Homo sapiens: one gene and its partners. The protein of the gene in region 2 purifies or fractionates together with the protein of the main gene of each other region. This does not show direct contact. Each region holds a gene or a part of one and is shown on either strand. Other genes may lie near its edges.

Region 1 (7,114 bases), on a different chromosome or scaffold from region 2:
TGCCCTAGAAGGGATTACCTAAAAGAGAAGAGGACAGGTGGGCGCGGTGGCTCATGCCTGTAATCCCAGCACTTTGGGAGGCTGAGGCAGGCAAATTACGAGATCAAGAGATCGAGACCATCCTGGCCAACATGGCGAAACCCCATCTCTATTAAAAATACAAAAATTAGCTGGTTGTGGTGGCATGTGCCTGCAGTCCCAGCTCCTCGGGAGGCTGAGGCAAGAGAACTGCTTGAACCCAGGAGGCGGAGGTTGCGGTGAGCCGAGGTCGCACCACCGCACTCCAGCCTGGCGACAGAGCAAGACTCCGTCTCAAAAAAAAAAAGAGAAGATGACAGAGTGGCTTTCTCCAAAACCTTGCCCAATACCTAATTTGACAGAGACATTCCTCTCGAAGTGTAGGACTTTCAGGTACTTCACATTTGGCTGCAGGTGAGGCAATGGGTAAAATGACTTACTTGAACTTGGCCGAGCCATTTTCAGGCAAATCTGGTTTCGTGTGGACGCTGGAGGCTTCAGGCCACAATATAGCTGGGAAATCAATCGACTTGGGACAATCTGGAGAGGTCGCATCAGGGTTTGTCTGTAGTTCTAATGCTTGAGGCGGGCTTTAGAAAAATCACAAAAACAAATAGTGTAGAAACAATCAGCAAATATTTTTATATATGGAAATATGTATAAATATTTATATTTTATATATTACAGAAACGCATCATGTATATTATATTATACCCACACGCACACATACACGAATGTCCTTTAAAAAATCTTTAGTAACAGATCATCCTCTGAACTGGCTGTTTTCCGTTTGTGTTCTCAAGTGCTCCTAGAGGTGCAGAGGTGCCTTGGAGCAGTGCTTCTCAAAGCGTGTTCCCTAGACCAGCAGCGTCGCCATCACCTGAAATCTTGTTAGAAATGCAGCCTCTGGTTCCACCTCAGAGCTGCTGAATCAGAAACTCTGGGGGTGGACCCCATCATCTATTTCCAGGTGATTCTAGTAACTACTCAAGTTTGAGGACCACTAAAATGCACAAGAAAGGGTTAAATATGAGAATTCATTTGAAAACTTGCTGCTTTTCAAAAGGTATGAAGCCAGGTGCAGTGGCTCACGCCTATAATCCCACCACTTTGGGAGGCCGAGATGGGTGGATCACCTGAGGTCAGGAGTTTGAGACCAGCCTGACCAACATGGTGAAACCCTGTCTCTACTAAATACAAAAAATTAGCTGGGAGTGGTGGTGCATGCCTGTAATCCCAGCTACTCAGGAAACTGAGGCAGGAGAACTACTTGAACCCCGGAGGCAGAGGTTGCAGTGAGCCGAGATTGTACCATTGCACTCCAGCGTGGGCAACAAGAGGAAAACTCCATCTCAAAAAAAAAAAAAAAAAAAAAAGAACAAAGAAGAAAAAAAAGAAGGTATGAAAACCACCACTAGTCTCTCAACTTGCGGTCAAAGTACAGTTTCTTTCTTTTATTTCAGACAGGGTCTCACTCTGTCACCCAGGCTGGAGTGCAGTGGCGTGATCACGGCCCACTACAGCCTTGACTTCCTGGGCTCCAGCGATCCTCCCACCCCATCCTCCCCAGTAGCTGGGACTACAGGCACGCGCCACCATGCCCGGCTAATTTTTGTATTTTTGGTAGAGACAGGGTTTCACCATGTTGGCCAGGCTGGTCTTGATCTCCTGAGCTCAAGCCATCCACCCACCTAGGCCTCCCGAAGTGCTGGGATTACAAGCATGAGCCACCATGCCCAGCCCAAAGTAGTTTCTGTGAGAATGTAATTTCTAACTGAGAACTAAATTCTGAAGGAAAGAAGTGTACTGTGACAATAGTATTAAGATAACATCGTGTCACAGAAACTCGTGGATCTTAAGGCACATTCAGTAAATCTTTGTCTATACCTGAGGAATTTTATAAAAAGAAAACAAACACAGAGAAAGACAACATTTGGAACAATGACACTGATTGTCCAACAAAACTGTGGGGGCAGAAAATATAACGGTGGTTGCCAGAAAGGGGAGGAGTGATTAAAAAGGGGCATGCGGGAATTTTTTTTTTTTTTTTTTTTGGTGGGAGGCAATGGTATTGTTATATATCTCGATTGTGGTAGTAGTTACATGACTGTATCTGTCAAAACTCATAAAACTCAATACTAACAAAGGGTTAATTTTATTAGACACATATTTTACTTAAAAATAATGAGTATAGAGCTTCAGTTTTACAAGATGAAATGAGTTCAGGGGATTAGCTACACAACAATGCGAATAGACTGAACTGTACCCTTAATAATGGTTAGAATGCTAAATTTTGTTACATGTGTTTTACCACAATTGTATTTTGTAAGAGAAAGGCAAGGGGATAAAAGAATATACCTTAACTTTCTTGCATTTGCTATAAAAACAAAAAAAGAATTCACAAGAAATTAGTAAAAAGAATTGAGTATAGGGTGGGAAACGCTATGTAAGGAGATTAGAGCTGAGCAAGGATTTTCCATATGTGTTTATATATTGTTTGGATTATCAATGCCTTCCAGTCCAAGGAACACACTTGTACTCGAGCAAGTTGCGAGAGATAGAACACGCCATGAAGAACTGCAGCATCTGTTAGGAACCTGGAATGGACTGATTAGAGGATTTGTGCTTGTGTTAGATCATGTTGGGGAGAGGTTCATGGAAGTGGGGCTTTGTTCTGGATTTGATGCTGTTAATGGATCTTATCTAAAAGGTGGAAGGAATGAAGAGAGGCTAGAGCTGTGAGTGGCCAAGCAGGAGTCCCTCATGTTAGCGGCATGGGAGGATGTTTGGTCATCTTTGTGGCTTCAACAATGTTCCTGTTTCGGTCCCAGTTCAGACGTGATTACTGAGTGGCCTTGTTCTTGTCCTGACCCATTGTGGTCACAGAGTGGCCCTGTCTGATATCGGTGCTCTGTGACGTGGTTTATGTTCAATAGAACACCAAGGCCTATCAGATAGTGCCAGGCTCAAGACTAGAAGCAAACCAAATGTCCATCAATTTATAAATGGGTAAACAAATTGTGGTTTATCCATACCATGAAGACTCTTCAGCAATAAGAACAAACTACTAATACCTTCAACAGCATGAATGAATCTTTAAAAGTGTTATCCAATAATAACTCTATAGTAGAAAAGCTGGCAGCTACCACCTTAACCAAGTGATCAAAGTTAACATCACCAGTAATAAGACATGGCGACTCCACCTACCTCCTCATATGATGCAATGAGAAGGGCAAAGCATCACTTGTGTGGCATTCATGACTGCAATTTAGTTATGAGAAAATGCCAAACTCAAGCTGAGGGGCGTTCTACACACTCTACAGCAAAACTGGCCAATACTCTTCAGAAAAGTATCAAAGTTTTGAAAGATAAGAACTGGAGAAACTGTCCCAGGTCCTAATGAGACATGACAAGTAAATGCTACGTGGGATCCTGGGCTGGATTCAAGACCTGAAAAGGGACATTAGTAGGACAAATGGCAAAATTTGAATGAAGCCTGTAAATTAGTTACTAGTACTGTATATGTAAATGTCTAGGTGTAGTACTTGTCCTGGTTTAGATCATTGCACTCTAGTTAGGTAAGATGTGAACATTAGAGGAAATTGGGTAAATGGTATAATGAGAACTCTGTGTACTATTTTTGCAACATTTCTGTAAGCCTAAAATTATTTCAAAATAAAATTGCTTCACAACAAGAAAAAAAAGGGCCAGCCATGGTGGCACACACCTGTAATCCCAGGACTTTGGGAGGCTGAGGCAGGAGGATCACTTGAGCCCAGGAGTTCGAGACCAGCCTGGGCAACAAAGTGAGACCCCATCTCTACAAAAAAGTAGCTGGGCATGGCAGTGCATGCCTATGGTCCCAGCTACTCAGGAGGCTGAGGTAGGAGGATCACTTGAGCCCAGAAGGTTGAGGCTGCAGTGAGTCATGATTGTGCCACTGGACTCCCTGCCTGGGTGAGTGAGACCCTGTCAAAGAAAGGAGAGAAGGCCAGAGCAGGAGCGAGAGTGAGGGAGAAAGAGAGAAAGAGAAAAAGAGAGGAAGAAACAGAGGGAGGGAGAGGGAAAGAGAGACAGAGAAGCATTATGCTAAGTGAAAGAAGCCAGATACAAAAGGCTACATAGTTTTTGAGACCATTTATAAGACATTTTAAAAAGGCAAAACTGTTGGTACAGAAATCACACCAGTGGTTTCCAGGGACAGGGGTCGGGGGAGTAAGGGGGAGCAGAGAAATTTTTAGAGCAACGTAAAATTACATTATCTTTATTTTTGTGATTTTTTTCAACACTCATAGAACTGTATAATAAAAAGCGTGAATTTTACAGTGCGTAAGGAGTAATATGATAAACCTCACCTACAAATAAGCAAGCAAGTCAACACGTTTTCAATGTATCCTGTCTCTTCTGCAATCAAAAAGACTGTAGAAGAAGATTGACACTCAAAAAGAGAAGAGGTTAGAGAAACATGGTGTAGTGTCTCCAGAACAACCTCAGGGGACAAGGCTGTCTGGCTGCCTAAAGTTACTTCTGCAGGGAAGGCAGGCAGACTGGCTGCTAGAGGGAAGTGAACAGACTCATGGGCCCCAGCAGCCACTCTGGTGAGCAGCTCCCAGACTCAGTGACAATGGTGACATCCAACCAACATGAATATCACTCCAGTGCTTGATTTAAAGAAAGCTTGAGGAAAATGGATTGCCATGATCTTCAACTAGCATGGGCATGATAAACTTTTGACAAACTTCAATTTACCTGGAAAACTCAGTAAGGAACAAATGAGGTGTTAATATAGTTTGTGGGTTTTTTGTTAAAATCTGGAAAAACTTAAACATATACAAAAATAAACAGTGTAGTATGGGGAACCCTTATATTCTTATCACCCAGCTTCAATAATTAGGGGCATGAAGTTTTAAAAATATCGTTAGAGATGACAATTATTAAACTTGCATGTCATGAAAATTGTGAAGATCAAAACTCTGAATACTGCCTAACAGTAACTAAAAGCTTCTTATATGCTGCATGAAGTTACTTAGGCTATCATCTTGAGCTTAATACATACCTTTAGTTATTTCTCCCAAAATGAAGATGGTTGTCTCCACGGCTGCTTTCTAATATATTTGAATCTGGAGACATCAATATAATACAGACTTCTAATTTGATCCAGAAAATTATTTTCTTCTTCTGTAGGTTTTTATATGTTAGAAAACATTTCCATTTACTGTAAAAGAATTCAAAAAAACTACTGAATAAACTGTCATTTTTTTTTATCAGGCATGAAGGTAGGATTGTAAAAGTCATTAAGAATTTAAAAGAAATTAAGAACAATGTCACCTGGAATTATTCCCAAGATCGTAAATGTTCATAACATAAAACTATTTTCTTAGTCTTTATTTGCGACTACAAAGTATTTTAAGACTAAAAGTCTAAATACAATTTAGTATTTGCTACTAAATAGTCTTTTAAGATACTACTACAAAGTCTTTATTGAAAACATCCTTTGTGCCAACATGTATCTGCTTTTCCAGGGTGTCAGGGCAGGCAGTGGTTCTAGTTTCCACAAGGTTACAACCCTGTTCAAATTTAGAAGCAATGTCAGAAGGGTGACAAGGCACCATTGTGACAGTTAGAGGAAAGAGGACTCAGGGTGAAAGTTACCCTGGGTGAAGACTCCTGCCTTGATTTTATCTTCCAGGTGGGAAAAGAGGCCTTGAGGGAGGAAATAAACTCATTGATCAGTCATTGGGAGCTTTTTGGGTGCTAGGCAGGTTCTTATAAATTGACATTAATCCAAGTAATGTCATTTAACGATGCCTTTTCATGAAATCTGAAACTCACCTAACAGATTTTTTTTAAAAGCCTGTATGTTCTCTGTGAAAAAGGGGGGCACCCTACCAATTCTGAAAGATAGAAGTGAAAGATTATATCAGAAATTTGAGGGAAAAAAATTTACAGAAAACTCAGAACCTGATGGCTTCACTGATGACCTGAATTCTACCAAACATTTAAAGCAGAACTAATACCAATTATTTTCTTTTTTTTTTTTTTTTTTTTTGAGATGGAGTCTCGCTCTGTCCCCCCAGCTGCAGTGCAGTGGCGCCGTCTCCACTTACTGCAAGCTCCACCTCCCGGGTTCATGCCATTCTGCCTCAGCCTCCCGAGTAGCTGGGACTACAAGCAACCGACACCACGCCCGGCTAATTTTTTGTATTTTTAGTAGAGACGGGGTTTCACCGTGTTAGCCAGGATGGTCTCGATCTCCTGACCTCGTGATCCGCCTGCCTCGGCCTCCCAATACCAATTATTTTCAAACTCTTCTAAAAAACTAAAGAGGAGGAAATACTTCTAAACTCATTTTAGGAGGCCAGTATTACCCTGATACCAAAGCCAGAGAAGGACGTTACAAGAAGAAAAACTACAGACCAATATCCCTGATGAACATAGATGCAAAAATTCTTAACAAAATACTAACAAACTGAATTCACTGACACGTTAAAAGGATCATTCATCATGATTGAGATTTATCCCTGGAATGCAAAGATGGCTCAACATACACAAATCAATAAATGAGATATACCATATTAACAAAATGGAGGACAAAAACTGTATGATCACCTCAAAAGATGCAGTAAAACATGTGACAAAATTCAACATCTTTTCATAATAAAAACTCTCAATAAGTATAGAAGTACTGTGACACAGAAAGACCAAATATGACAAACTCACAGCTAAATCATACTCAACGGTAAAAAGTTGAATGCTTTTCCTCTAAGATCAGGAACAAGACAATGATGCTCACTCTCACATTGTCTATTCAGTGTAGTACTAGATGTCCTAGCCAGAGCAATTATGCAAGGAAAGGAAGTAAGTCATCCAAATAGGAAGGGAAGAATTTTTCTATATATGTTTTCTATATATAAGATCTATATATAATATAGATATGTATATAAAATATAGATATATAATATCTATGTATATAAGATATACAGAGAGATCTATAGGGATATATAAATATATATATAATATAGAGAGACATATAAGATATATGAGATTTCTATATATAAGATGTTATCAGCATGATCCCTGTTTGATGATAATATGA
Region 2 (7,114 bases):
CTAGTACTATTACACCACCACCACTGCATTTCTGGAATGCCAGTGCACAGTTGCAGAAATCCTATTTGTGAACAACATGACCATGACTGAAATTGCTGGCCAGGATCTTTTTCTGGGATCCTAACAGGCTTACATGACAACCATTTCTTAGCTTTTTTACGCGCTCAGTTCTCATTGAGCTAGTTATCTCATCAAGGGACTCAATCCTCTATATATGCATAAGTGTACATAAATTAGTCCTTATGAAGCACTCCTAGTTTAAGGTTTGCAATTTTTTCATGTATTTGTTACGTTGCCCTTTAAGGTAAAATTTGTAGTTTAAGAAGCTAAGAGGCTTTTTAAAAGCAAGAATAATATGCTTATAGTGCCACTTTAATCAATTTATTTTAATTTTGGTGTGATTTTAAAAACCTTTCTCAAGAAAAAGCCCATGGGCCAGGTGCAGTGGCTCGCGCCTGTAATCCCAGCACTTTGGGAGGCCAAGGAGGGCAAATCCAGTCAAGAGTTCAAGACTAGCCTGGGCAACATGGCAAAACCCCATCTCTACTAAAAATATTTAAAAAATTAGCTGGACATGGTGGTACATGCCTGTAATCCCAGCTACTCAGGTGGCCTAAGCATGAGAATCGCTTGAACCCAGGAGGTAGAGGCTGCAGTGAGCTGAGAACGCGCCACTGCACTCCAGTCTGGGCGACAGAGCGAGACTCTGTTTCAAAAAAAGAAGCCTATGATTTAAATTATTCATAGAATAAAGTTGGAACATTCCAACAGACCAACATAAAAGGCTGAAGTGACTGTGCACATCTCTCAGTCTAGATATGTTGATTCCAATCTTGACTACGTTTAGACTAGAATCCAAATAGCCTGATTTCAAGTATAAAGCTTCTTTCACTAGAATATATTATTTGAATATGTCTTCAGTTTTGTCTTTACCCGATAATAATACAAGCATGCATTAGTGAAAATACATACCAAATTAATTTCTTCTGGATTGAAATCCTCAGCCAGGAAAGCAGTCCTAGTTAAAACTTCATGGCGCTTTGTTTCATGAATCTGGTCCAGTTTAGTCCCTATTACCAACAGTGGTATTTGGTTATCAGCAAACTGTTCTTGATCATAATCCCTGTGATAAATAATAATGAAGAGGTGAATAGAATGTATCTTTCTGGTGTAGATGTGTAATATTTAAGTGCAACTAAGTTACACTATTTTACTGAAAATTAACTGATTTTTGCTGCCTTCACCTACAAACCTACTTTCCTTCCAACTTCTTCCATCTACTTGTTCTTTTATCAATCCATCCTCATCATCAGATTCCAGCTATTCATCTAACTTCTCAAAATTTGGTCCCATGTTTTTATTGAATATTGAACAATACTGAATAATTGAACAACTAAGTGCCCATCAAGTATATTACAGTCAGTGGACTTAACTTCCAATGTAGCTGTGTCTTCTAAGGTTAACATAACAGCTCAGGAATATTTCAGAGTAGAAGCAGAGAGTGGATTTAAGCCTCATCGTAGCAAAAACCCAAAAGCCTAGCATGGCACTCAAGCCTTGTGCTAGAAGAGAAAATGGCAAGCTTCTTGGGTACCTTTTGGGGTATGCATTAATTCTATATCTACAATACACATTTCTGTCTGAATAGTAAAGAAATAAGAAGAATAAGAAAATAGAAATAGGGAAGCTGAAGCCTAGAATAAATCAAATATAGGTGATACTATAGCCTGGGAAAGGTGGATTAAACACATGGAAATGGAAGGAAACAGCTGAAATGCAAAATGAATAGTAAAAGGAAAGAACTTAGTACCAAGTAGTTGTTTCCTGAAATGAGAGCCATGGGAGATAGAGGACGGGCAATAAGAACCACTTAGGGTTAGTGGCCTTGGATCACTGGCTATTACAATCCTTATTTTTTAAAAAATTTATTTATCCAAAGAACAGAGTGGTGATGTAAATGATACTTCTCATTACTGAAAAGAACACAGAGGCCATTGCTGTTGAATTAATTTAAATTCTACTCACATATTAGAAATAAAACAGATTTGGATTTCTGACACGTTATAAGCTCAACTTACAACAGTCAGCAAAATCTGGTTGTGCACAATTTATGACAGTAAATCAATATTGCATAATCCAATCACTACAACCCAGTCGAGCATAGCTTTTTTTCTTCCTTTAACACTACTTTTCTTTCTCTTACAGAAATTCTAAATTGGGGTAGGGGGCAAAGTTACTAAGTATTTATGCCCTTCACAATAATCTTACAGCGCCTCAGCAAACTGTTCAGCCTCGGAACACAAGTGTTTTACTATACAACCTCCCATCTCACAAAAATATTACCATTCTATTTATTGCATCAAAGCCAATAATAGCATGATCAAGACCTTTGATTATTCATATCAACAGCAACTCTAATTAAAGAGACATGGTTCAAAGCTACAATTCGCTTTGTTAGGGAATGAAGTTTTGAGAGTGTCTTTCCTTTAGGACTGTTTCCTTCTGTCTCACATACAAAGTTTTGCATATCTTCTATCAAATATCATCTTTGATGTACATACATCTCTCATATAGTCTTGCACAATTCCTTGCACACTGACACATATAAAGCATACATATATAGTTTGCTCTCTTATTTCTCTTTTTAGCTTTCCTTTTAACTTTTTCATAAAATCTTGCAGCATCCAATTTAAAATTTAATCTTGAAATCTTCTTTGGTAAACTTCTGAAGAACTTTATCATGGATGGATAAGGCTGATAGCTCCTTAACATCACAAAGAGACACACAGCCAGGTATCATATTATATGCATAATACTGGGTGGAAAAATAAAGACAAAAAAACTTGCATCTTTCAGACCACTATATTTAATTATCACTTCAGAGAAGATTTAGAATTCAGAGAAACAAGTTTAAAAGACAATACAGGGAGACAATCAGCAAATCCAGAATATAGGAAACTGTACAAGACAAACAGCCATCTTCTTCTACAAATAAAGTGCTAGGAGGTTGGAAAAAAAACAACCAAAAAGGGAGAACCTAAGATTAAAAGATACTTAAGAAACCAAATACAACCAGTGGACCTTATTTAGATACTATTTCGAAAAAATCAATTATAACATTTATGAGACAATTGGGGAAATTAAAATAATATTTGGTTATTAAAGAATTATTATTAAAGTTTTAGCTGTGATAATTATATGGTGTCATGTTAAAAAAAAGCCCTTATGTTTTAAAGTATATATGGATGAAATGATATGATGTTTTAACATTTGGTTCAAAATAATCCAGTTGAGAGTGGGAGAAGATAGAAAGTGGGTAGAGATATGGATGAAACAAGACTAGCTATATGTTGATAATTGTTGAAACTAGGCAACGGGTATATGGGAGTTCATTTTCCATTCTTTGTATTTACATATGTTTAAAATTTTCTATAATAAAAAGTTAAAAAAAGTTATTGTGGTAAAAACTACATAATATAAAATTTACCTAAATTGTTTAAATATGGCTAAAAACTCAAACTGATATAAAAGATATATGCTAAGCAGTCTTGCTCCTACCACTGTACCCATCCACCCATCTCCCCTGGCCCCCTATAGGTTACCATTTTTATTAGTTTCTTATTTTTCACTGATTCTTTATCCAAATATAAATACATATTATTTCTTTTCTTTCTTATACAATAGGAGGTATACGATATATATTCTCTGCATTTTGATTTGTTAAACCTAATAATGTACCCTCTGTAGATCTTTCTATTTTAGTTCATAGAGATCTTCCTGATTCTTTTTTAAACATTGAATACTACTCCAGTATGTGGATATGCCATTATTTATTCAATGAATCTTTCGTTGCTCGGACACTAGGGTTGTTTCCAAATTTTTTGATGCTATACAATAATGCACCAACAAAGCACACCAATGTATTAAGGTTGTTTTATACATTTGCAGGTTTATCTATAGAATCAAAATGAAACTGTAGTGTCAAAATGCAAATGGGTATAGAACTTTTACTGAATTCCCTGACAAAAATGCAGATTTCTTTCTGATATGAATATGCTGTCTCCTAACCCTAAATTTAAGGATAAGTTTCTTAAGTAGAAATTTTAGTAGAAAATAGAGAACAAGCTAGGTTAATGAAGACATCAGTGATGAAAGGAATTGAGATAGGAAATAAATATCAATGAGGCTTTGAAATATAGGTTTTAAATTAGTTGTGCTTATTCTTTATTAGGTCTTGCTGGAATCTACATATATATACTCAAACTTATACTATATTTAGGTTTCACATAACAATTAGACTTCCACACAGAAAACAAAGCCTTTGAAAGACTTGCTTCAATCAAAAGATAGAAAATGGGGTTCTGTTCTAGGTAAGACAGAATAAGCAAACTCTATCCTGTCTTTCCCAGTGAATGCAACTATAAAACCTGGACAGGATACATGAAGTGGCTATTTGAGGACTCTGAAAAATTAATAGTGAGCATATTAAGGAAGACTGCAATGTGAAGAACCATTGAATTAGCAGTTTCCTTCCATATCCCCTTGTCTGAATGCAACTCAGCTTAAAACCCAAAAGTGTGAACAGAATACTCCAGAAGAAGGCCTATAGTTCTGGCTCATGAAACAAGAAAGGGGACACACGAATACTTGGAGATAGTGTAGAAATACAATATTTTTCCTTCTGTTGTAAGCCAGCTTCTGAGCAATTTCATGACAGTTGTGGCAAAGGCTATAACACAAGCAGAATGCTCAAAAACAACAGTCCCCAACCTTTTTGGTACCAGAGACTAGTTTCATGGCAGACAATTTTTCCATGGACAGGTGTTTGGGGGATGGTTTCAGGATGAAGCTGTTCCACCTCAGATCATCAGGCATTAGTTAGATTATCATAAGAAGCCTGCAACCTAGATCCCTCACATGCACAGTTCACAATAGGATTCACGCTCCTATGAGAATCTAATGCCTCTGCTAATCTGACAGGAGGTGGAGCTCAGATGGTAATGCTCACTCACCTGCCACTCACCTCCCACTGTGTGGCCTGGTTCCTAACAGGCCATGGACCAGGGGTTGGGAACGCCTGCTTACAAATACAGAGGAAGGGAAATTTTTCTTTTTTTTTTTTTTTGAGACGGAGTCTCACTCTGTTGCCCAAGCTGGGGTGCAGTGGCGTGATCTCGGCTCACTGCAAGCTCCGTCTCCCAGGTTCATGCCATTCTCCTGCCTCAGCCTCCCAAGTAGCTGGGACTACAGGCGCCCGCCACAACGCCTGGCTAATCTTTTGTATTTTTAGTAGAGACAGGGTTTCACCATGTTAGCCAGGATGGTCTCGATCTCCTGACCTCATGATCCGCCCGCCTTGGCCTCCCAAAGTGCTGAGATTACAGGCGTGAGCCACCGCGCCGGGCCCAGAAGGGAAATTTTTCTGACTGATGGAACTGTATCTCAAGACAGTGGGGCAAACTCCCATTGCTTTTATTCTTTGTCCTTCTACCACTTGGCCCTGGACATAGGTGCAGTTGTGCAAGTGCATGAGAAAATTTGGCCTGGGGACCGAAAAAGGGAGCCCCAGCAAATCACAAAGTATGGCAGAGACTGTAGACAGGGTGAAGTGTGAGAAAGCAACCCCATGAAGTAGTTCGTGAATGCTTGAGCTCATTGCCAAAGCTGTGCATGCATGGATTTGATCCTACTTAGTGTACCAAAGACACTGAAAACTGAAACAACAGAGACAACAACACCCAGGTCACATACCGGGTGTTGCACAAATATAAAATAAGTGAAATCATATAAAGTATGTTCTTGGATCATAATAAAATTAAGCTAGAAGTCAATAGCAAAAAATAACTGGAAAGCCTCTAAATACATGGAAACTAAACAACACATTTCTAAACAGCCTATGGGAAAATCTCAAGGAGTATTAGAAAATATTTTGAACTAAATGAAAATAAAAGTAATACATTTAAACATTTGCAGGATGCAGCTAAAGCAGTGTTTAGAGGGAAATTTATAGCATTAAAATACTTGTATTGGCAAAAATGCAAGGTATCCAGTAAGTAATCTAAGAAGCTATAGAGAACAAAATAAACCAAAAGCAAGCAGAAGGAAAGAAATAAGAGTAGAAATCAATTAAACTGTATATGGAAAAACAATAGAGAAAAATCAATGAAACCAAAAGTTGCTTCTTTGGAAAAAAATCAATACAATTGATAAACCTCTACAAGTCTGACAAGAAAAAGAGAAGACATAAAATACCAAAATCAGAATGAAAAAGGTCATATCACTACAAACTGTGCAACTATCAAAAGGACAATAAACAAATACTATAAACAACTCTATTGATATACATTAAAAAATTTAATGAAATAGATGGAATTCCTTGAAAATCACAAATTACAAAAACTCATCCAAGATGAAATAAATAACTTGAACAATCCTAATTACTAAAGAAGTTGACTTTGTGGTTAAAAACCTTTCAAATAAGAAACCTCCAGGCCCAGATGGTCTCTTGGTAAATTCTACCAAACCTTCAAAGAAGAAATAACACCAAATATACTCAATTTCTTCCAAAAAATAGAAGAGGAAGGAATACTTCCAATTAATTCTATGAGGCCAACATTATCCTCACACCAAAACCAGTCAAAGACATTATGAGAACAGAAAACTACACACCAATGCCTGTCATGAACATGGATAAAAATCCTCAACAAAATATTAGCAAATCAAATCCAGCAACACATAAAATGAATAATACACCATGACCAAGGAATGGAAGGCTGGTTCAATATTTGAAAATCAGTGAATGTAATCCACCAGTATTGAAAATCAGTGAACGTAATCCACCATACTGACAGCCTAAAGAAGCAGCCACATGTCCATATCAATTGATGCAGAAAAGGCTTTTGACAGAATTCAGTATCTGTTCATGATATTAACAAAACTATCAGCAAATTAGGGATAGAAAGAAATGTTCTCAACCTGATAAATGATGTCAACAAAAAAAACCTAAAGCTGACATCATACTTAATAGTGAAATGAATGCTTTCCCCCTAAGATTGGAGTAAGACATAGATATTCACTCTTATCACTCCTAGTTAGTACCCTTTTGGAAGTTGCT
Region 3 (7,114 bases), on a different chromosome or scaffold from region 2:
GATTCGTACATAATGGTTAATGTTTAAAGGGGTTCTTCAACACTCTGCAGATCCTGGATCAGTTCTGGAACCTTCCTCGGGAGGTCTTAAAGTATTGGGCAGAAGAAAATCTCCAGAATCCCAGGCTCTTTCAGACAATAAACTCCCTGGGAAAGTTTAATGGAGAATATCCTAGAAATGACCCAAATGTAGACTATAACCACTGATCTTATTACTAATTAGGAGAACTAACTAGGAAATGTCGAGTCTAGGGTGGTGATCTTCTGAATCCAAAGCTTAAGATAAAAACAACACCAGCCTTGTGTTGCGGGAAGTCAGGGACCCCGAATGGAGGGACTGGCTGAAGCCGCAGCAGAAGAACATAAATTGTTTCATGGACATTTATTAGTTCCCAAAATTAATACTTTTATAATTTCTTACACCTGTCTTTACTGCAATCTCTGAACATAAATTGTGAAGATTTCATGGACATTTATTAGTTCCCCAAATTAATACTTTTTAAATTTCTTATGACTGTCTTACTTTAATCTCTTAATCCCGTCATCTTTGTAAACTGAGGATGTATGTCACCTCAGTACCCTGTGATGATTGCGTTAACTGTACAAATTGTTTGAAAAACATGTGTGTTTGAACAATATGAAATTAGTGCACCCTGAAAAAGAACAGAATAACAGCAATTTTCAGGGAACACGGAAAGATAACCATAAGGTCTGACTGCTTGCGGGGTTGGGCAGAATAGAGTCATACTCTTCTTCTTGCAGAAAGCGAGTAGGAGAAATACTGCTGAATTCTTTTTCCAGCAAGGAATAACCCTGGGGAAGGAATGCATTCTGGGAGAGAGGTCTATGAATGGCCGCTCTGGGAGTGTCTGTCTTATGCGGTTGAGATAGGACTAAAATACACCCTGGTCTCCTACAGTGCCCTCAGACTTACTAGGATTGGGAAATTCCAGCCTGGTAAATTCTAGTCAGACTGGTTGTCTGCTCTTGAACCCTATTTCCTGTTAAAATGTTTATAAAGACAATGTGTGCACAGTGGGACACAGACCCTCATCAGTAATTCTAATTTTTGCCTCTGCTTTGTGATTTTACTGCCCTTTGCAGCATGTGATCTCTGTGACCCACTCCCTATTCGTACACTCCCTCCCCTTTTGAAATCCCTAATAAAAACTTGCTGGTTTTGTGGCTCGGAGTCACCATCACGGTCCTACCAATATGTGATGGCACTCCTGGAGGCCCAGCTGTAAAATTTCTCTCTTTGTACTCTTTCTCTTTATTTCTCAGACCGGCCGACACTTAAGGAAAACAGAAAGAACCTATGTTGAAATATTGGGGACTGGTTCCCCTGATAGCCTTGGGATTTTGGTATTAACTTATAATATAAGGTTTGCAATTCAGGGCCAGATAGACAAATGAAAGGGAACATTTGTGAGACATTATGAATTAAATTCTCTCCTACAGAATAACTATTTGCTATTGGTACATATCCTGATATGACTAAGACATAATCCTTGCTCCTAACTTCTGGGCTATATTTGATTTGCCTTTTTTCCCCCCTTTTAAATCAATTAAGTCTACTTATATTCTGCAATCTAATAGTTATATAGTACTTATTTGGTAAAAGCTTCCTATCTTGGAAATGAACATAATGTTTCTTTAATGGAGACATTTTTCTTGTCAATCTAAATCATATAGTGTAAGTATGACAAAATGATTTCTTCTCACCTCATAGTCTTTAAACAATTGGCGCATGAAGAAAAGCCACCCAAATCCAAAAAATAGTATCTGGAGGAGAAAGAAAATAGAATGTCAATACATATTTTCTTTTGAGAAATGTTTTATAGAAACTCTTTTATGATAAAAGGTCTGCTAACTAGACGGTTAACTTATTTCAGGGATTAAAGATAAGATCCACTCTTATAAGACCTATTATTAAAGCTCATGACATTGGAAATAAATTTTTAAATGCCCTTGGAGTTTTGAAGTTATCCATGTTACAGAGTATGCTTTAAGACAAAAATGGAAGTACATATTTTGCCATAATCTTATGATAATCATTATATGAGCCAGAGAAGTTTGCAAATAGAAAAGGAGTCAGTGGCCAGGCACGGTGCCTCACACTTGTAATCCCAGCACTTTGGGAGGACAAGGTGGGCAGATCACCTGAAGCCAGGAGTTCAAGACCAGTCTGGCCAACATGGCAAAGCTCCGTCTCTACTGAAAATACAAAAATTAGCTGGGTGTGGGCACCTGTATTCCCAGCTACTCCAAAGGCTGAGGCATGAGAATCGCTTGAATCTGGGAGGCAGAGGTTGCAGAGAGCCAATATCGTGCCACTGCATTCCAGCCTGGGTGATAGAGTGAGACTAGGTCTCGAAAAAAAAGAAAAGGTGTCAGAGTGAGACTTGCTTCTTATGGATGATCCCTGATTGCAAGTATTTAAAAATAATACCAGCCTGGCCAACATGGTGAAAACCCGTCTCTACAAAAAACACACACACATAAAAATTAGCTGGGGGTGGTGGGGTGTGCCTGTAGTCCCAGCCACCTGGGAGGCTGAGGTGGGAAGATCACCTGAGCCTAGGAAGTTGAGGCTGCAGTGAGCCATGATTGCACCACTGCGCTCCAGCCTGGGCAACAGAGTGAGACCCTGTCTCAAAAAATAAATAAAAATAAATTAATTTAAAAAATAAAAACTTCAGGGGAGAGGAGTTGAGACCAAAATTAGAGGAGTAGTAGAAAGCCTAATATTTTTTATATCTGTTTCCTTCAGAGAGTTTTCTTAGCTTCTCCACCATCCTGCCTAATCTACATAAAAGTGGTTTTCATCTCAATGTAAAGCCGAGAGATTGCAGGATCCCTCTTTCGTCAGTTTTGTTTCAAACTGGCAGAGACCGTAGCCACATGACAGCTGATAAAGCTGGTCTGTAGTAAACAGAACTTTCTATACATACACACTGACACAACTACTCTTTTCTTCTTAAACTGGCTAGGACCTTTATGAATAAAATGATTTTATGTCTTTCTAGGGACTACTTTACTGAGCAAGTGTAAACTCAGTAGTTTAGCACAGACTACTTTAGCTTCTTATCATGCCCCTGCTGCCTAGCAAACTCATGTGTTCAGCCCCCTGGAACTTCTTTGGTTCTTTAGATCCATATTCTTTCACATCGAGACCTGTGTAGATGTCCTCTGAAAGGAACTTCTCTCTAGCCCTCTCCCAGTTATGCTATTTACTCCCCCTGGAAGGCCCTCTCTGCCCTCCCAAATGCAGATAAATTGCTTTTTATATAATCCTGTTTTACATTGTACTTCCCTCATCAAAGTGCTTACCATACAGTTTTGTAATGTGTGATTTAAATATTTTTTGACATTAGATTATAAGCTCTATGAGGACAAAAACCATGTTTGTCTTGTAATCTTTGTATCCTTGGCATCCAGCACAAAGCCTGGTACGTAGCAGGCTCTCCATAAGTGCTTGCTGAATGGCTAAGTGGTCTACATAAAAGATGGTTTATTCTTCAGCATTCAATCTTAAATTTTCTGTAATAACTCCTACGTGCTATGCTAAGTGCTGAGGATACAAAGATGAATAGGATGGTTACTACCCTCTAGGAGCTCACAATATAGTGAAGACAGTACATAAATAATTATAACATAATATGGATGTGCAATGATAGAAATACATACATGATATTGTAAAACAATATGAAAGAGGGAGACCAAACCAATCTGTAAGGGGTTAGGACAGATTTTCTGGAGAAGATAATGCCCGAGCCGAAGGAAGTTTTAATTTGGGGTTAAAACCTGATATTGTATGCACATTTTGGGGTTATGTGCATTTTTCTAGAGTGGTTTCAAGGTATTCATCACACAGTCAAAGGTTTCCACCACCCCTAACATAAAAACCATCCTCTCAAAGGATGAATAAGAATCAAGTAGGGAGGCTGGACATGGTGGCTCACGTCTGTAATCCCAGCACTTTGGGTAGATCGCTTGAGCCCAGGAGTTCGAGACCAGCTTGGGCAACGTGGTGAAACCCCATCTCTACAAAAAATACAAAAATTAGCTAGGTATGGTGGTGCGTGCCTGTAGTTCCAGCTTATGGGGAGGCTGAAGTGGAAGGGCCACTTGAGCCTGGCAGGTAGACGTTATAGTGAGCTGTGAGCATGTCACTGCATTCCAGCCTGGGTGACAGAGCGAAACCCTGTCTCAAAACAAAACAAACAAACAAAAAACGAATCAGGTAGGGTAAAAACAGGTGGTAGGGGTAGGAGGACAGGGCTTTCCAGATAGCAAAGGGCATGAGTAAAGGCGCAGAGTGAATAGCATGGTATATGCCGGGAACTACACATGGTTTGGTGCTGCTAGAAGATGAAATTCAAAGAAGGAAGAGGTTAAAAATGAGGCTAGACAGGAGGAGTGGATGTCCAATCACTGAGAGCTTTGAAGGCCACCCTAAGGAGCTTAGATTATAGTCTGTAGGTGATGAGGGTTATTTAAGCAGGGAAATGGCATGGTCTGATTTGTTTTATATTATATAGAGCGGTATGGTGGCTGTATGGAAGACACACTTGAAGGAAACAACAGTGTAGAAAGAGAAACATTATAGAAATGTGTTATGGGAATTCAGATGAAAGATGATAAAGCCCTGAATTAAGACATTTGGTGACAGAAGAGGAGAAAACAGATTTGAGAACTATTTAGAAGGTAAAATCAACAGGGAGAAGTCAAGGATGACTAGTTTGGAATACAGGATGAAGAGTGAAGCTACCCAATTTATATAAAGAATACTGGAGAAAGAAGAGGTTTAGGAAAGGGGGCAGAGGATGGGGAAAATGATGAGCTCATTTTTGAACACACTAAGGGCCTGAGGGACAGCCAGCAAGATGGATCAAGATATCCAGCAAGTATCTGGAATAAAAGACAGATTGTGAAGGCAGGTCTAAGATATACCTATGAGTTGAAACCACCAAAGTACATGAGATCACCTGGGAATAGTATCTAGAGTAAGGAGAGCAATGTGCCAAGAAGAAAACACTAGAGGATAAGGAAAACAATTTTGAATAGTGAGGTAGAGGCAGGAACCAGAGTGTAGCAGGTCAGAATGAATGGGAGCTAAAGCAGTGGGGACAGTAAATGCAAATTACTCTAGGGAGAGCCAGGAATGAGAAAAAAAGAAAACATTAGATAATAGGCTAGAGAAGAATGTGGAATAAAGGGAAAGTTTATTGGCCAAGGGGAAAGAAAGCAGTCAAGTAAGGAGAAAAAGATGAGAAGGATGGTGGAATACTAGAGGATAAACTGATAATACTATTATTAATATGATTAGGTAACTTTTATTGAGCATTTACTATACTACAGGCTCTCTAAGTAGTACTTAGCATTATAATCTTATAAAAATAATTAAAAACTCAGTACAGTGGTTTGATTATCCTATTTTCACGGAGAAAGATGAGGTTTAGAGAAGTTAATCAATTTATAGTAAGTGTCAGAATCAAGATTGAACTCAAGCTTGTTTGACTCCAAAATCTGTGCTTTTTTTTAAATATTATTTTTTCAGCTCTTATTGAGTCTGTCTGTTTAGAAAATCTGTGCTTTTAACCACTTCAAAATACGCTACTCTAAGATCAAAGGTAGGTAGAATGGCTTTAAACCGGAGTAGGGGAACCCCGTTTTCTGAAATGGGAGGAAAGGAGGTAAGAATGGTTGTGAACACAGATAACCTTTTAGATTAAAATGCAGAAAGTATTCATAGTAGGAGATCATACCTTTTGGCTTCACTTTTGTTGAGTAAGTACGAGGCAAGGTTATCTGCTAAGAGTAAGAGAGGTGAGTTAGAAAAAGGAGCTTTGAGGAGAGTGACAAAGATTCGGAGAAACTTTGAGGGGAATGAAACAAGTAGCTGATTAAGGTCAAGAAAAGGAATAATTCAGTGAGCTGAGGGTTAAACTCCTGGCGTTGGCAAACTACACAGCTATGTGATTTTCTATAGTAGCCTTCAGGCCTCTGTATTAGTAGTAAACAAACTATAGCAGTGATCCAAGTGTGGACTTATATATACATGAAGGTAAACGAACAAGAGGGTGTAAGAAAGTAAGTTGGATCCAAGCATCTAGATCAAGCAGAAAAGGAAAGGGTCAAACAGATTAGGAGAAAATGTCCAGGATATCCTTTGGCTATTATAAATATTTACCGGTGGAGACAGATGTAAATTCAGAGTTTAGAGACCATATTTATATGACTTATGAAGCCACGACTGAAGACAGAGAAGTTGGGCAGTTAGGACTGAGGGTGGTATGTATAGTGGAAATGGATGATTAAAAAAAAAATCACCAAGATTGCTATGAAATGGAAGAGAAAACAAGCAAAAATTTTAAGTTTATATGGTGGGGAGGGGAATGGAAGAAAAGAGAAACAGATATATACCTTTAATATTTCATTGTGGCCTCCTTTCACATTGAAAAAGAAAAGCTTAAAAAGACTTTCAGAACAAAATTATGTCCTTTGCAGCAACATAGATGCAGCTAGAGGCCATCATCCTAAGCAAATTAATGCAAGAACAGAAAACCAAATACCACATGTTCTCACTTCTAAGTGGGAGCTAAATATTGGGTACTCACCAACATAAAGATGGCAAAAACAGAAACTGGAGACTACTTGGGGGCAGGGGAGGGGAGAAGGGGGAAGGGTTGAAAAACTAATTATTGAGTACTATGCTCAGTACCTGGGTGACCGGATCATTTGTACCCCAAACCTGAGCTCCCACAATATACCCGGCACAAGTACCAAATCTAAAATAAAATAAAAGTTGAAAAAAAAAAAAAGACTTAAACTACACACACACACACACACACAAGTAGCTGGAGAATTCATTTACATCCAAGTAAACACAAATTCTGGCAAGATTATAGAGGATCCAAAAAGAAAGCAGAAGCAAAATGCAATTTCAAATAGCTTTGCAAATAAAATGGAAGGCGTATAGCTTCTTATTAAAAATGAGACTTGATACTTTCAGAATTGTACAGAGTCTTGACCTTAGGACTTAAGAGTGTACTCTGGAACTGATAAGTCTTATGACGGTATAGAGGGCTCAAAACATGAGTTAGTTAACA

Evidence for each region.
Region 1: the proteins of RABL3 (region 2) and SIRT5 purify together in Homo sapiens (affinity purification with mass spectrometry; 2 studies listed by BioGRID and IntAct, with this or other methods). This does not show direct contact.
Region 3: the proteins of RABL3 (region 2) and GPR89A purify together in Homo sapiens (affinity purification with mass spectrometry, with the first as the bait; 2 studies listed by BioGRID). This does not show direct contact.

The regions. Positions count from the first base shown.
Region 1 is NC_000006.12:13,577,570-13,584,683, reverse strand, and holds part of SIRT5 (NAD-dependent protein deacylase sirtuin-5, mitochondrial), read right to left. Parts: intron 5,913-7,114; exon of another isoform or gene 5,851-5,912; intron 5,234-5,850; 5' UTR 5,075-5,233; intron 609-5,074; 5' UTR 574-608; coding exon 459-573; intron 1-458. UniProt on the Homo sapiens protein: NAD-dependent lysine demalonylase, desuccinylase and deglutarylase that specifically removes malonyl, succinyl and glutaryl groups on target proteins.
Region 2 is NC_000003.12:120,697,451-120,704,564, forward strand, and holds part of RABL3 (rab-like protein 3), read right to left. Parts: intron 1,124-7,114; coding exon 973-1,123; intron 1-972. UniProt on the Homo sapiens protein: Required for KRAS signaling regulation and modulation of cell proliferation. Regulator of KRAS prenylation, and probably prenylation of other small GTPases. Required for lymphocyte development and function. Not required for myeloid cell development.
Region 3 is NC_000001.11:145,610,904-145,618,017, reverse strand, and holds part of GPR89A (Golgi pH regulator A), read right to left. Parts: intron 5,817-7,114; exon of another isoform or gene 5,771-5,816; intron 1,785-5,770; coding exon 1,725-1,784; intron 1-1,724. UniProt on the Homo sapiens protein: Voltage-gated channel that enables the transfer of anions such as iodide, chloride, bromide and fluoride which may function in counter-ion conductance and participates in Golgi acidification.